Homo sapiens: one gene and its partner. The protein of the gene in region 1 interacts with the protein of each later gene in a pairwise test. Each region holds a gene or a part of one and is shown in the gene's direction. Other genes may lie near its edges.

Region 1 (7,022 bases):
GGAGCTGCAATCATTTAATTTTGTGAAGTGACTGGTGAGTAGTGATGTCTTCTTTAGGACAAAGGTAAAAGGATTTTACTTGTAGGCATAAGGATAAATATGAAGGATTCCAAATTCAGGTCTCTAAGTTGGGAGGATATGTTTGAAGAGCAAGTGATACTTTTAAACATTTGAAGTGTTTTGAAGTAATGTGTTTCTTTTTTTTTTTTCCTTTTTTCTTTCTAGTGTGCATAGCAGTGATCCCCAACCTATTTTTGCTGCAAAATGACATTAGGAATATTTCATGGTGCTTCCAGATTTCTCCAGGACACTTTAATATATATCAGTTTAACTTTATTAAAACTGGCACATGTTTTATTTAGGAGACTGGGTGATTTAGAGGCCTCTCTTCTTATCCTGTGGATACCATAGAATATTGCAAATTCATGGGTGGTGAACAGTAGCACATACATTAATACAATATGATATAATATATACCAAGGGAGATACAAGAAAAACTGCTGAGCCTTTCTCAGCCTATGGAACTAATCTATGACATCATCAAAAGCATAAAATGATGACAGTGCAGTTTTCAGAGATGCAATTACTTTAAGTATCTCTCGGGCATGAAAGGAACAAATTAATCTTATTACCAGTCATTTAATGAACTAACCATTTATCATAGCCATTATTCTTCAACTGCTGTTTGTCATCATTTTATGGTTTTGTTTTATAACTCTTTCCCAAAGATGGCAGTATCTGTTACATTACCTTTATAAAAGGTAATGTATTTTATATATATATATAAAATATATGTATAATACATATATAATATATATAATACATATATGTATATATTATATACATATATATGTATAATACATATATGTATATATTATATACATATATATGTATATAATATATACATATATATGTATATAATATATATGTATAATATATATGTATATATGTTATATATAATATATGTGTGTATATATGTATATGTGTGTATATATGTATGTATATTATATATGTATGTATATTGTATATGTATGTATATATACATTGTATATGTGTATATATATGTATTGTACCTATAATATAATACATATATATGTATAATACATATATATGTATACATATATATTATGTATACATATATATGTAATATATACATATATGTAAATATATATTATACATATATGTATTTATATATAATATATATTATACATAATATTAATATATATAATATTATATATATTATATATAATTTACTATATATAATATATATATAATAAAATATATATATATAATAATATATATATAATAAAATACATATATAATAATATATATATATATAAAGGAGTCCAAGGTTAAAATTCAGAAGATGCACTCACAAACAATTTTTACTATTTACAACAACTTTCTGTGTCAGGAATTCATATACAAGTAGATGGATGTGTGCGACTCTAGGATGAGAGTGTTTCTTTTACTATTTTAACATATTCCTCATGATATAACACAGGATGACAACTTGGCTAAAGTTATACTCTTTGTAATGTGGAATGCATTCAATTTGGATCTAGTTTGTTTTATTTGGAAAATAAAAAGACTAGATAAAAATTTATTAAAGGCATATATGGTTTGAAAATCTGAGACAGAGGCAACATTAATTCTTATTTAAATATTTGTAACAGAAAATCTAATTCTGTTTAGAAACAAGCTCTCAATGCACAAGCCTTGCTTATATTAGCCACCCAATAATCAATAACAGATTAATGCTTATGATTCTGACATAGATAACATGCACAGTGTTTGTGTTCATCAATCCCTTTTGTTCATGAAATATTTCACCTTTATATTAGGTTTGAGACATATGGAGACAGCATAGAAACCTGGTAAAAGCATGGAGTGTAGAGCCAGATGGCCTGGTTTCACAACCCAGCTTCAGCACTTGTGAGCTGTGTGAACTGCCCTCTTTGCCTCATTTTGAAAACAGATAAGAGCACCTATGTCATAGGATTGCTAGGAATATTAAAAAGGTTCAAACACAGTTATGCAGATTGTGCACTGTGTCGAGGTACAAGCCAAAGAGACAGGAGAAGGAGCTCAGCTTGGCAAGCCCAGTGCCTGTAGCTCAAGCTACCTAGAGGCAAAATCAACTTTTTCTAGTTGAACAGTCTATAAGAGGGACCTTTCTGCCATCTCTCACCAGGAGAGGTCGTCTTTTCCCAATTTATCCCAAAGCATGGATTGTGGTAGAAATGAGGTGCTACATTCTAAATTATTGCTAAATTTGAGGCTTTTATTATTAGAATCATTACTTCTATAAAACTCATAACTGGTCTCATTATTTAAGTAAGAAGACTGAGGCCAGGGGTGATTAAATAATCTCAAGTACCCAAAGTTCAAGTGTAGAGTTTGGTTTCAAAGCTAATTCATTTTGATTGGCTACATGAACTCTTAAGTCACAATGATACTTGGTTTACTACTTATTATTCTAATCTCCATTGTAAATATTCTGATTTTTTAAAAAAATAGTCTCATGCTCTTCTCAGAAAGCTTACGCATTTTCCAACTGGAAAAGTAGGGCTTGCTGCTGCTGCCACCATCCAGAAAATGACCACAACCTACATTTATAAACTTAATTTAAAATTATAAATAAAATTATAAATAAATTTGTTTATTAATGTAAGAAAATAGACTCCAGCTATAGTGCACTATGCAATTAAGTACATTATAAAATCTCTGTTGTAAAAATAAAAGTTTATTATAATAAAACTCTTTATAAGAAAAAATTTTAAGAAGTTGGTGTAACATTGAATGCTGAACGCAGAACACTTGAACACCAGTCATTTTCTTTTTAGTTCAAAAGTGTTGGCACTGGTATCACAGTCCTTGCTGCACTGTGTATGGTAGTATCAACATATTTATCAGTGTGATTGTGAGGGGGGTAAGAAGAAATTATGAAAAAGAAAAAAATATCTTGTGTGATTCTAATAAAACATTCTAAGTTAATTCAGTCTGGTTTGGGGAATATTTACCATGTGGATGCTCTTTTTTACTTTTTTTTGCAACTAATGGTAGATCATAATTGAACAGCAGGAATTTGTAATATGTCTTTTATATTTTTATTGAAAAAGTGATATAAATTCAATATTCATCTAATATTAATAATATATAATTATAGCGTGAGATATTAGAAAATATTTATTATTTTCATAACTAACTGAGCACTCAACTATCAGAAAATAAACAAATATAAGCAAAAAGAAAACCAAATTATAGATCCTTTCTGCTCAGAAAGAAAAAGCAAACTACCCTGACTTCATGAGTTTGGCCCCACTTTATATCATTGCCAAGAGCATTTAAACCTCTGCCAATAGTTAGCTCTATAGAAATTTTAATGGCTAAGGAAAAAGACAAAAATCATCTACTTATTCATGGAAAGAGTGATGAAATCTTTGTTGTGACAGTGATAGGAGTGTTAATAATAATAACTTTCTCTAAATAAAAGGGCCTGTTTATTTATGTAGCTGTGTGTGAAACTAATAAGGATGAATATTTCTTTTATATAAAATAAATGTATTTTATTTGTTTTAATATATAAAATATGTATTTTATTTATTTTATTTATTTATTTTAATATATAAAAATACATATTTATTTTATTTATTTTAATTATTTATTTTAATATATAAAATAAATATTTATTTTAATATATAAAATATTTATTTTATTTATTATTTTAATATATAAATATTTATTTTATTTATTTATTTTAATATATAAAATATTTATTTTATTTATTTATTTTAATATATAAAATATTTATTTTATTTATTTATTTTAATATATAAAATATTTATTTTATTTATTTATTTTAATATATAAAATAAATATTTTATTTATTTATTTTAATATATAAAATAAATATTTATTTTATTTATTTTATTTATTTATTTTAATATATAAAATAAATATTTATATACTTTATATAAAGAAGCCTCTTTTATATAAAAGAAATATTCTATAAAATATTTCTGTAAAAATTCAGTGCAATCTATACGACAAACCTCCATGACACACATTTACCTATGTAATAAACCTGCACATCCTACATATGTACCCATGAACTTAAAATAAATGCTTAAAAATCCAGTGCAGAAAAACTTACATATTTAAATACTTTTTAGATTTAAAAATTAATTAGCTCCTAGTGCACATCTAGCAAATAAATTATCTTGGATTTTATTTTCTCAATATGTTTGTAGAGAAATTATCTTGAATTTTATTTTCTCAATATGTTTGTAGAATCCTGGGCAGATCTTTTCTCTCTCTTGTAGATAAGCCCACAGTAAAAGGATGTCTTCAATTGCAGATGCTAGTTGACATTTAGTAATTTATAGTTCGACGGCATAAATGTAAGCTTAGTGTAATAGAACCCGTTATATGGTTCTCTGAATCCTTATCTATCCCATAAAATGTTGATGGAAGATTTTATCTGAACATAACATTTGAAAATAAGAGACAGAGAAATTCTCCACGTTATCTCACAGAATGAGACGAGAGGTAATTGTAATTGTTCTCTAGGAAAATTGGCTTTTACAGAAGTGGGAAAGTTGCTTCCAGAAGATCTGCATTAACAAAACTTTTCTGGGAATTAGGGCAACATTTGTTTCCCAGCTGTTGGAGTTTCACTGCATTAGTAGCCAAATGTGATCAGCTGAAAGAGTGGTGAGACGTTCAATAGCTGCTGCTTCTGATGATTTTGCTGCAACTTGGACCAAATTTGCACGATAAGGTGGAAGTCAGTAATAAAATAGAATTGAATGTAAAGAAATTCAGTGTCAGCTTTAACTGACTGTATATAAACCCATAAAAATTGTGCAATATATTTATAATTTCCTGAAAACTGCCTTGCTAGATCTGAACTGTTAGTGACTTTTCAGTTCAAACTCTGTAGACACAGCTGATGATCAAACTTTAGAGTTAATAGATCTGTTCCAGTTGACGGTGGGCTGCTGTCTTGATGCCCTGAGAGTCTCCCGACCGTGCAGCCATCACAAGCTCCACTCCCTCAAGCAGGACCGGAGGACTGCTCTATTATCCACAACCAGAGACACAGCCTGGCACAGAGAGTGTCAAGCTGTCTATCGTCCAGGGTCTGGACAGCACTGATTGTTAGTTATTTTAAATATAATCTCTCTCCCTAGGTTTTTTTCTTTCATTATTATTATATCTGTATGAACTAACATAATGGTGTTAGAAATTTCCACATGAAACCTAAAGCTCTCATGCATTTAATTAGAAGTACTATCTTAATTTTATGAGTTAATTTACATCACCATTTCTGTATGCTCATCATGAGTAAATCTGTGCTGCATTTATTTTTTAATATATCAGGGATAATGAACAGTGACTTTTAGCATATGCATCATACCCAGGAATTCCCTGAATGTTTGGGGCTTTGTTACATATAACAAACTTTTTACTCACTGAAAGGTCTGGCTATTCTGTTTTGTTTTTTTTTAATATGACATTTTTTGACATCTTGCAAAACAATCTTCTTAGGGAAATTTAATATTTCAAAAGTGCTGGGATAAAATCCAAGGCAGAAAGTTCTTGGAGTGAAAAATCGAACAAGTTAAAAACTCAAGGGAATGTAATTAAGATATATTTGGACACTTAGAACTATGTAAAGGATGTAGTAGATGAAAATGGAAACCGCATGCTTCTAAATACAGTCATGAAAATACAAGCTTAATGGCATTGTTAGGCTCTGACTGAGAACAACCATTTTAAATGATGAAATCATCACAAAACTTAGTAATATATTAGGAGAAATTTTAAAATAATACATTAATTTTCAGAGTCAACCATTGGGGCTTTCTGTTAATTTGGGACTTTCATGATCATCTCTCAAAGAATATTTATTTTCAGGCTGATTTGTCCTCCTGAAGTTTCTCTAACTTATTTCCCATGGTCATTCATACTAATATGTTCTTTTTCATTAACAATTTGGGCAGCCTGTTAATTTGTTCAGATTTTTTAGTGTGTTGCTGCTGGGTCCAGATCACGGTCACGAAACAGAGGGAACAACTCTTGGCTTGCTTGCATTGCCAGAACTACTATTTTATGATTGGTTGTTCTCAGTTTGTGTCAAGATATTGAATGCCTATCACTCAAACACTGTTGAGAAGTTAATGACCTTCCACTGATTTCTGTGCCTTTCTCCCTCTGAGTGTCATCATAGGTCATTAACTGCTGACTCCAGAAAGGAATGGATATGATACACTGGCTCAGTGTGATGTACTGTAATTAAAGTACAAAGTTTGAATGCTTTTTTTTTTTGCCAGTATTTAAATACAAGAATCTCCCCCACCCCCAGAAATCCCTGACTACTGACAACTTTTATTGATAGGCTACACAATTAAATACATAGTAGAAAAGGCCATAAATACCAACAGGAATAATGTTAATGGAGATGAATTGTAAGAAAGTAGAGAAACTATTTCCTAATTTCTTAGCATAAAGTAATTTGTCTAAATTTTACATAAAGTAATTGACAGTCTATTTTCCAGGTCCAAATCTAAGCTAAAATAGGGCAAGACTCAGAAAGTAGAAGAGGCTATGGACTATGGAAAGCAGTCTGGGCATAAGAAATAGTAACAGAGAGGGATCCTTGGCGGTTTTAAAAGTTGACAGCAGAGAGCAGAGGTGAACAAAAGCAGAAGCAGTGAAAATCAAAACAAGACAGAATGACCATTCTGGAGATTGTTTATAATCTTGCCATACATTCTTAGTGGTAAACAAGGGTGAGTGTAGACAATAGAACAATAGAAAGTCCATTGCTTATAGAACTAGCTAAATCCTATACACCGTAATATCCTTGACATCAATCTATTTATATCTGTTTATCGTCTGTCTATCTATCTATCTAATCTGGCATATATATGTAAATATAAATATATACGACTTTATTATGACCTGATATGCATATTTGCAGTTATTTCACTTGATAATTAGGAAAATTAGCACTG
Region 2 (7,977 bases), on another chromosome or scaffold:
AAGGTAAACACAACTCAGTTCCCGGAAACAAAGCTACGATTTGGAAGGATGGTGTAAATTCTAAAGCGTAGATCCTTGAAAAGCCCCTCCCACTCTGTTTTTCTTGTCCTCGATTCTGGTATTTTTTTCTCAGCATCCCACCCACCTTCTGCCCCAGCTGTAGCAGTTAGTTGCCCGGCAACCCAGCGCAGCACTTCACTGAGGGATTGGGAGTACCCTCAGGTCTTGGATTTAACTCGAGACTTCAGCTTGGCCGTGGATCACTGCATTGTACCTAGCTCCCACAAGGAGGAGATGGAGATTTCCAGGCTGAGGCTCTGGAAAGAGCTGAGGAGGGAGAGGAATCAGACCCACAACTGATTTCCTGTGAGTCTGAGGAACTCCCAGTCAGGTTTCTTCCTGTAGGTCACTGTGCATTTTGCTTGGCCTCCTGCAGGTTGCTGTGCATTTTGCTTGGCCTGTTCCCCTGCAAACAACAATTCACCAGCTTTTTTTTTTTTTTTTTTTTTTTTTTTTTGAGACAGAGTTTCGCTCTTGTTGCCCAGGCTGGAGTGCAATGGCGCGATCTCGGCTCACCGAAACCTCCACCTCCCAGGTTCAAGAGATTCTCCTGCCTCAGCCTCCCGAGTAGCTGGGATTACAGGCAGTAGCTGGAATTACAGGCATGCGCCACCACGCCCGGCTAATTTTGTATTTTTAGTAGAGACGGGATTTCCCTATGTTGGTCAGGCTGGTTTGGGACTCCCGACCTCAGGTGATCTGCCCGCCTTGGCCTCCCAAAATGCTGGGAGTACAGGCGTGAGCCACCACGCCCAGCCAGTTCACCAGCATCTTTATTACCTTTCATTCCCCGACAGGCTCTTAGGCGGCAAATGATTTCCATTTGTCAGAGAGGAAGTCACCACCAGTGAGTTAGGGAAAGGACTCCAATAGCCTAGCGCTTTGTCCACTCTTCCCTCTATGGCATGTTCCAGGAGTCAGGGTCATGTTGACCGTTTTTAAGCCGAAGATAGTTTCTTCTTTCCCTCAAAATCAGATGTGAGGCCGGGCGCAGTGGCTAACGTCTGTAATCCCAGCACTTTGGTAGGCGAAGGTGGGTGGCTCACTTGAGGTCAGGAGTTCGAGACCAGCCTGGCCAACACGGTGAAACCCCGTCTCTACTGAAAATACAAAAATTAGCCGGGTGTGGTGGCACATGCCTGTAATCTCAGCTACTCAGGAGGCTGAGGCAGGAGGATCGCTTGAACCTGGGATGAGGAGGTTGCAGTGAGCCGCGATCATGCCACTGCATCCCAGCCTGGGCAACAGAGGGGAAACTGTCTCAAAACAAACAAACAAACAAACTAAATCAGATGTGAAATGGCTTTTCTACTTGAAAATGGCTCTAATTAACAACAACAAAAACCCAGATATGTATAAAATACATAAATTTTCGTAATTTACTTGCTAGTATTCCACCAGATTTTCAGTACTTATCCCACTGCTATTATTTTTCTGTGTGTGTTGTGTGTATGCACGTGTGCCCCTTTTAAACTAGAAACTCCCGGGAGGCAAGTGTTTTCTCTTCCACAGGGTGTCCCCATGGGGCTAGGAACACAGACATCTGTGTACAAGGAAGGCATCATCACACATAATGAGGCTGAGGCTGAAAGGAGGACTGAGGGCAATAGGTGCATATGGAGGGAGCAATTAGTTGTGACCAGAGTAAGTGGTCTTGAGGAAGAGAAGTATCATTTCAGTAGATTATAAGAGTAGAAGGACCTTTCACAGGCAGCGACAGTGAGACACCAGAAGCTGGTGGAAAGGAGGAGCTTGTGGGATCCCAGAGGAGGCAGCATTCAGTTATCTTGTTGATGACGAGTATACTGAGACTCCCTGGAGGTCTGAGAGCCAGTCTGTATCTATTTCCTTTTTTATTAGGAGGCCAATCCTAATAAATCTTCCTTCCCAGCCTGGTATTGGGAAGCTTTATCTCTTTCTTCTCCAGAGATCATTAGCCCTCCCTACCACCACCCTCCTGGGGAGGGTGGAAGGATGTAATCAAAGACAAGAGAGACTAAGGATTCATCATCCACATATACATGTTACTATCAGAAAATGGTTACTAAGATACTTGTCAGATAATCTGAGTATTTTTGTTCCCATGATGATAAAGTCCCAGTTGATGATCAGACTAATCAGAAGGAGAAACAAACACATGACTTTTGGCTTCACTTGAAATTGTGTGCCTTCCCTGGTAAAAGTTCAAAGCGTTTTCCTGAATGCTGAAGCCGGCCCTAGGATTCACAGACCAGTTGACTTGTCAGTGGCCCTGGACTGAGCAGACAGTGTTTGAGATGCACACCTCTTCTAAGTAGCCTTGAGTGGCTCCCAATGAGCAAGGCCAATCCACTGAATGTGATTGCTAGACAAAGCCTGTCCCAAAAATGTTTCATAGTGCCACAAAGACAATGAGACCCCTCTGGATAGTCTGGGGCTGTGATACTTGCAGGACTCTATCTGTGGCTCTGTCCAGTCAGCTGAATCACTCTTTTTCCTTTTCCTCCCACCTCTCCCCTCTTAGTCTAGAAAAAAGTTGTTAATTAAAAGCAAGCCCCAGGATTTCCCATTCCACTGGTATGGCATGAATGATATTTCAAAAGACAGAAATGGCATAGAAATTCTCAAAGCATACTTGAGTATTTTCTGTTAGACTTCTTAAAATTACAAAGTTTGTTAATCCCTACTATGTGCATAGGAAGCTCTTCAGTACTGTGGAGGATACAAACTAATATAATTGCAGTTGCTTGCCCCCAGGGAGTCTACTTCAGCATATTTGGAGCATCTTGGTTGAATTTGAGGGAAAAGAGATGACTAAGACATGGTTCCCACCCCTAGGCAGCTTCCTGATGCATGGAAAAAGCAGACATATAAACAATCAGCTAGACTCTAAGGCAGAATGTAAGTGCTAGAGGTCTAAGTAATGGAAGAAAGAAGGAGGACTAGGCTGGGCACAGTGGCTCTCACCTGTAATCCCAGCACTTTGGGAGGCCGAGGCGGGAGGATCACCTGAGGTCAGGAGTTCGAGATCAGCCTGGCCAACATGGTGAAACCCTGTCTCTACTAAAAATAACAAAAATTAGCCAGGCATGATGGCGCATGCCTATAGTCCCAACTACTTGGTAGGCTGAGGCAGGAGAATCACTCAAACCTGGGAGGTGGAGGTTGCAGTGAGCCAAGATCTCGCTACTGCACCCCAGCCTGGGCAACAGTGACTTTCTGTCTCAAGAAAAGAGAAAAAAAAAAAAAAAAAGAGGGAGGACTAACTAGGGAGACTCATGTAACTAGGTAGACTCACAGTTCAGATACTGAATTGTGAAGCAGTATCTGGCAGCATAGGACCAAGCACTCAGTGGAGAAGTTGAGGGAATAAATCAAAGAAGTCAGAGAATGGAGATCACTAGGGGGTCTGAGGGTTCCTGAAGGATTCTTGGGGGAAGAGGGTCTTCATAGGGAAAGCTTCTACCTGGACAACTTCCTGCATAACCTGCTCCCCTAAACCCTAGCTGCTCTTCCCACTGACAGCTTCCTCCTGCATCCCTGGTTCTGGCCCTGAGTTCTCTCCTCCCTTGATTTCATGTCTTCTCCTCCCTTTGAGATTAGAAACCCAGACTCTAGGAATCTCCACTGATTTGGCAGTCCAGTGACAATGCATGGGCAGGGCCACAGGAGGTTACCTCATTCACCCCCACCTCTCCCCATCATTCCTTACAGGGAAATCTAGGGAGGCCCAGGCTACCCCACCACCTCCTCTGGCTCAGACAAACCTGTTGCTGACCTGTCAGTTTCTGTCTAGCCCTGCCATCCCACACTTCAGAAGGCATTGTTTATTCTCTTATTCTCATGTGCTCATTCCTCAGACAACTACTTGGGTTTGGGAGAAAGATACTTAACACCTTTCCATCCTACCTCTTTAAGAAAGGGACTGTGTGCCAAAGACCTTCCCACATGTATGAAGAAGGGGCTCTTGGGAGAATGTGAATTCCCCCAGGATTCCTTTGAATCCTTTTGCAGGTATTTCCTTCCCCTGTCCTCAGCAAGCATTGATGAGCCCCAGTCCTGTAGAGGTTGAATCAACTCCTTGAGTCTAGGAAAAGATGGCTTCTGAGGCCAGAGGTTGGGCAGTGTACCTACAGCACCATTTCTTGGGAGCTTGTTGGGATATCACATACTTAGAGTGGCAAGGTCTTGTGGCTGAATCTATTGATAGTCCAGTGCTACATTGCCAGCTCCCTTGTCATTACCACCCCCTCTACACGTGCTCCATAGGCAGGAGCTGTTACTATGGAAATACATTATTTTTAAAAACAGACACACAGCCTGGGCTTGGGAATCTCCAGAACAAACCTACACGAGCAAGGAGGTTAATGGGGCTGTTTCTGGGTCCAAGCTCCAAGAGGAAGGAGGGTGATGATGGTGGGGGGAATTCAAATTCGGTGTTCTACTCTCAACCTCTCCCAGCTTCAGGTTCTGCTTTCTCTCTGTTGACATCAGCTGGACCTCTGCCAGACACTTCTATCTGGGAGGGACGCTCTGCGTCTCCTTACCCTGGGCCTAGCTTCCCCCAGGAAATGGGAAGCTAGAAGTCGCTGAGTCTGGGGGTGTTGGGAGAAGGGGGCGGTGATTTCCACAGGGGTCACCTCCTTCTTAACCTCACAGGCGTCCGACCTGTGGAAATCTAACAAGCATAGGGGAAAGCAAAGGCAGCATCTTAGGTAAGTGAAGTTACTCTTGCCTTGAGCTGAGTGTGGGAGCACCGCGATTGCAAGATGGGGCGAGGTGATCAAAGATCCCGCCTATTTTCAACCCCGGAACCTCCTCCGCTCGCTGCTAGCCCTCCCGCCCTCCTCCAGCGAGGGAGCGCCAGGCTGTCCTGGCCCCGCCCGGCGCGGGTGCGGCTCCTTTAAGGGCGGGTGGGGGCGGGGCGCCGGCGGTGTTGTCAGTGTCAGCTCTGCGCACGCAGCCCTCCCGGAGCCGGTGCCGGCCCGCGAGCCCCAGCGTCTCTGCAGACCAGTCCCCTCCAGGGTCCGGCGGGGCCCGCGCGGTGGGAGGAGTCGGGCACTGGCCGGCGACTAACGGGTCCGACTGCTGACCAAGCTAGGAGAGACCCGGACCACGGAGACAGAGACCCCGGCATCGCGACCCCCGAGGACCTCCTCTCCTCGCCCTGTGGCACCCACTAGTCCTGGGCACTCAGCCGCGGAGAGCCCCCGACCCCGCGCGCCCAGCCCCGGGGGAGCCCACCTCCTCCCCGCGGCCCGCCCGGGCCATGCTCCCCCGGGGCAGCGGGTGAGCCCCAGCCGGGACCGGGATCGGAGCCCGCGCGGAGCATGGATCCGGGCTGGGGGCAGCGGGACGTGGGCTGGGCGGCCTTGCTGATCCTCTTCGCCGCCTCGCTGCTCACGGTGTTCGCCTGGCTGCTGCAATATGCCCGGGGCTTGTGGCTGGCGCGGGCCCGCGGGGACCGGGGCCCGGGACCCGCCTTAGCCGGGGAACCCGCGGGTTCCCTGCGGGAGCTGGGCGTGTGGCGCTCGCTGCTGCGGCTGCGGGCGACTCGGGCTGGCGCCGCCGAGGAGCCAGGAGTCCGGGGCCTCCTGGCGTCACTCTTCGCCTTCAAGTCTTTCCGGGAGAACTGGCAGCGGGCTTGGGTGCGAGCGCTGAACGAGCAGGCCTGCAGAAACGGGGTGAGTTGGACCAAGCGCTTGGGTGGTCCCTTCAGCCTTTCCTTCCAGGGGAGGGACTGACTGCTCGTGCTAGGAGGCCAGACGAGGGTGGGCATAAACTGGGGAACCCTATGGCTTCTCTTCCCCTCCCGGATCAGAGAAAAGGGTGCCGCTAAGGCTGGAGGTTGTAGAAATCCAACTGGGTCCCCAGACTTCCATTTCTGTGGGCAAGGTACTCTGGTTCCAAACCCATGCACAAGTTGCTGTTCTCATAGCAACGCTAATCCCTGTGCCTGAGGGCACTTCCGCCTTGCCTGGGTGCTGGTTGTGTTGGGGCATGGGAGACAGGTGCACCTGCAGAAGGAATTTGCCTGCTTCTCATGCCACCACACCCATTTAACATTTCATGCCCCAAATCCCTGGTGTGGTCAGGCAGATCCCCAAGGAGCCTGAATCACCCCCCTACCCGACAGTAATTTCACTGCTACAGTCAAACACATCCTTCTCCTCCATGCTGGCCTGTGGTTCACTGGGGGTTGGGGAGTGTTCAGGTGGAGAGCAGATTGACAGTGCCCCTACCAGTAGATGAGCTTGGAACTGCCCCTTGAGGGTCAGTCACAAACCAGTCCAGCCTACTTCCTCCCATTGCACCATGGGCATCTGGCCTCCCAGGAAGTGGGGCAGGAAGCGTGGTCATGAGATGGAGATAAGGTGGGAGGTAGAAGTCTCTCTTTTCTGGAGCTCCCTCCCATCCTGACCCAGCAATCTCTCCTTGCTCTCACAGTCCATCAGCTCCTTGCTCAGAGGGTTCTCTATTTCCAGCCACTATGAGTTTGGAGGCTTTACCTTACTAGTTCCCCAGATGCCGGAAACAGAAATGTCCACAAGAAATTGCTCTATTTACTCTGTCCAGCTGGCTGGCTAAAAGCCAGATGGCATCTGTCAGTTTACACCTTGAACCCACCTCTTCATCCAACTCTCCCTGTACCTTGTCCCTCGGTCAGAAGCAACTCCCCAGGATAGCTGACTCAACTGGACATTGGCCTCCCTTGCAGAGGGTGGGGAGATTGAGGTTTCAAGCATCCATCTCCCCATCTTCCTTGGCCTAGCCTTTGAATGAGACAGCTACCAGAGCAAAGGAGTTGGCTTCCCCTGGTTTGCCAAGCAAATGAACCCTATGGATTTGTTTCCTCCATCTCAAGACCCAAGGAAGAGTTGCCAGCCAATTCTGTGCCCCTTCCTCAATTCTGTGTCCGCACTGCTCTCCAGGTGGGGCTGCGGTAGGTTGCTTCCATTACTGTGGACGAATTAGGGAGCAGCTCTTTTGAGATCTAAGCAGCTTTCTGCTCTCTAATACCGTCCTGCTATCTGCCTTGAGGAATTAGCCAGGCCCCTGGACTCTTGGGTCCTCTGAGCTTGTATCTCTTCCCAGTCCCCCTGGTACGGATCCCCAAGGCCATGCTCATCTTCATCTCCAAGAATATGAAGCATCATACTCTTGAAGCCTCCACATCTTATTTATTTGGAAGAAGGCTTAGCTTCATTTCTGCAGCTCTTATCTTGAACAAGGTGGCTCTACCACCTTTACCGGGGCTTAGCCCTTTCCCTCTGCCCAGCTATTATATATAGGTGGCAACCAGCACCTTAACTTTTTTCTATGTAGGATTTTTTGTTTGTTTGTTATTTGTTTTTTTAGGGGGTAGGGTAGGGGATGAAAGGGATTGCAGGGAGAAGAAGAAGGAAGCTCTTGGTATTCCAGGAGGAAGCCAGGGTCTTCAGCTTAAGGTGATCTAGTCTCTGAGGTGGACTACCTCCCCATTGCTCAGTGGCTCCTAGCAGCTACAGGCCCCTGGAGAGGCAGGCCTTGAGGGGACTACCTCCTGTCTTAAAGCCCTGAGCCAAGGAGGGGCCAGAAGCCAGCCTGCAGCTGAGGCCTCCGCAGTGGCAGAGTCCAGCCAGCAACTGAGCAGGCCAACCCTGTGGGGGGCAGCTCCAGAGACCTGATCCAATGCCCACATTACTCCCTCAGAGCTCCATCCAAATCGCCTTTGAGGAGGTGCCCCAACTCCCACCCAGAGCCAGCATCAGTCATGTGACCTGCGTAGACCAATCTGAGCATACCATGGTAAGGGTCTGATGGGCACTGCCCTCTTTGGGGTCCAAGAAGGACTGACCCCAAGGGCTCCCTTTAGTCCAGAGGTTCTTAACCTGGAGTCTGTGAATGCCTTATGGATCTAAGGATTGGTTTCAGGAAGTCTGAGAATCCCATTGAAGT

What was found.
Region 2: the proteins of CHODL (region 1) and C2CD2L interact in binary tests that used the Homo sapiens proteins (3 or more experiments, as listed by UniProt).

What each region holds. Positions count from the first base shown.
Region 1 is NC_000021.9:18,247,813-18,254,834, forward strand, and holds part of CHODL (chondrolectin isoform a precursor), read left to right. Parts: intron 1-7,022. UniProt on the Homo sapiens protein: May play a role in the development of the nervous system such as in neurite outgrowth and elongation. May be involved in motor axon growth and guidance.
Region 2 is NC_000011.10:119,102,373-119,110,349, forward strand, and holds the start of C2CD2L (phospholipid transfer protein C2CD2L), read left to right. Parts: upstream 1-4,971; 5' UTR 4,972-5,369; coding exon 5,370-5,723; intron 5,724-5,740; exon of another isoform or gene 5,741-6,982; intron 6,983-7,731; coding exon 7,732-7,827; intron 7,828-7,977.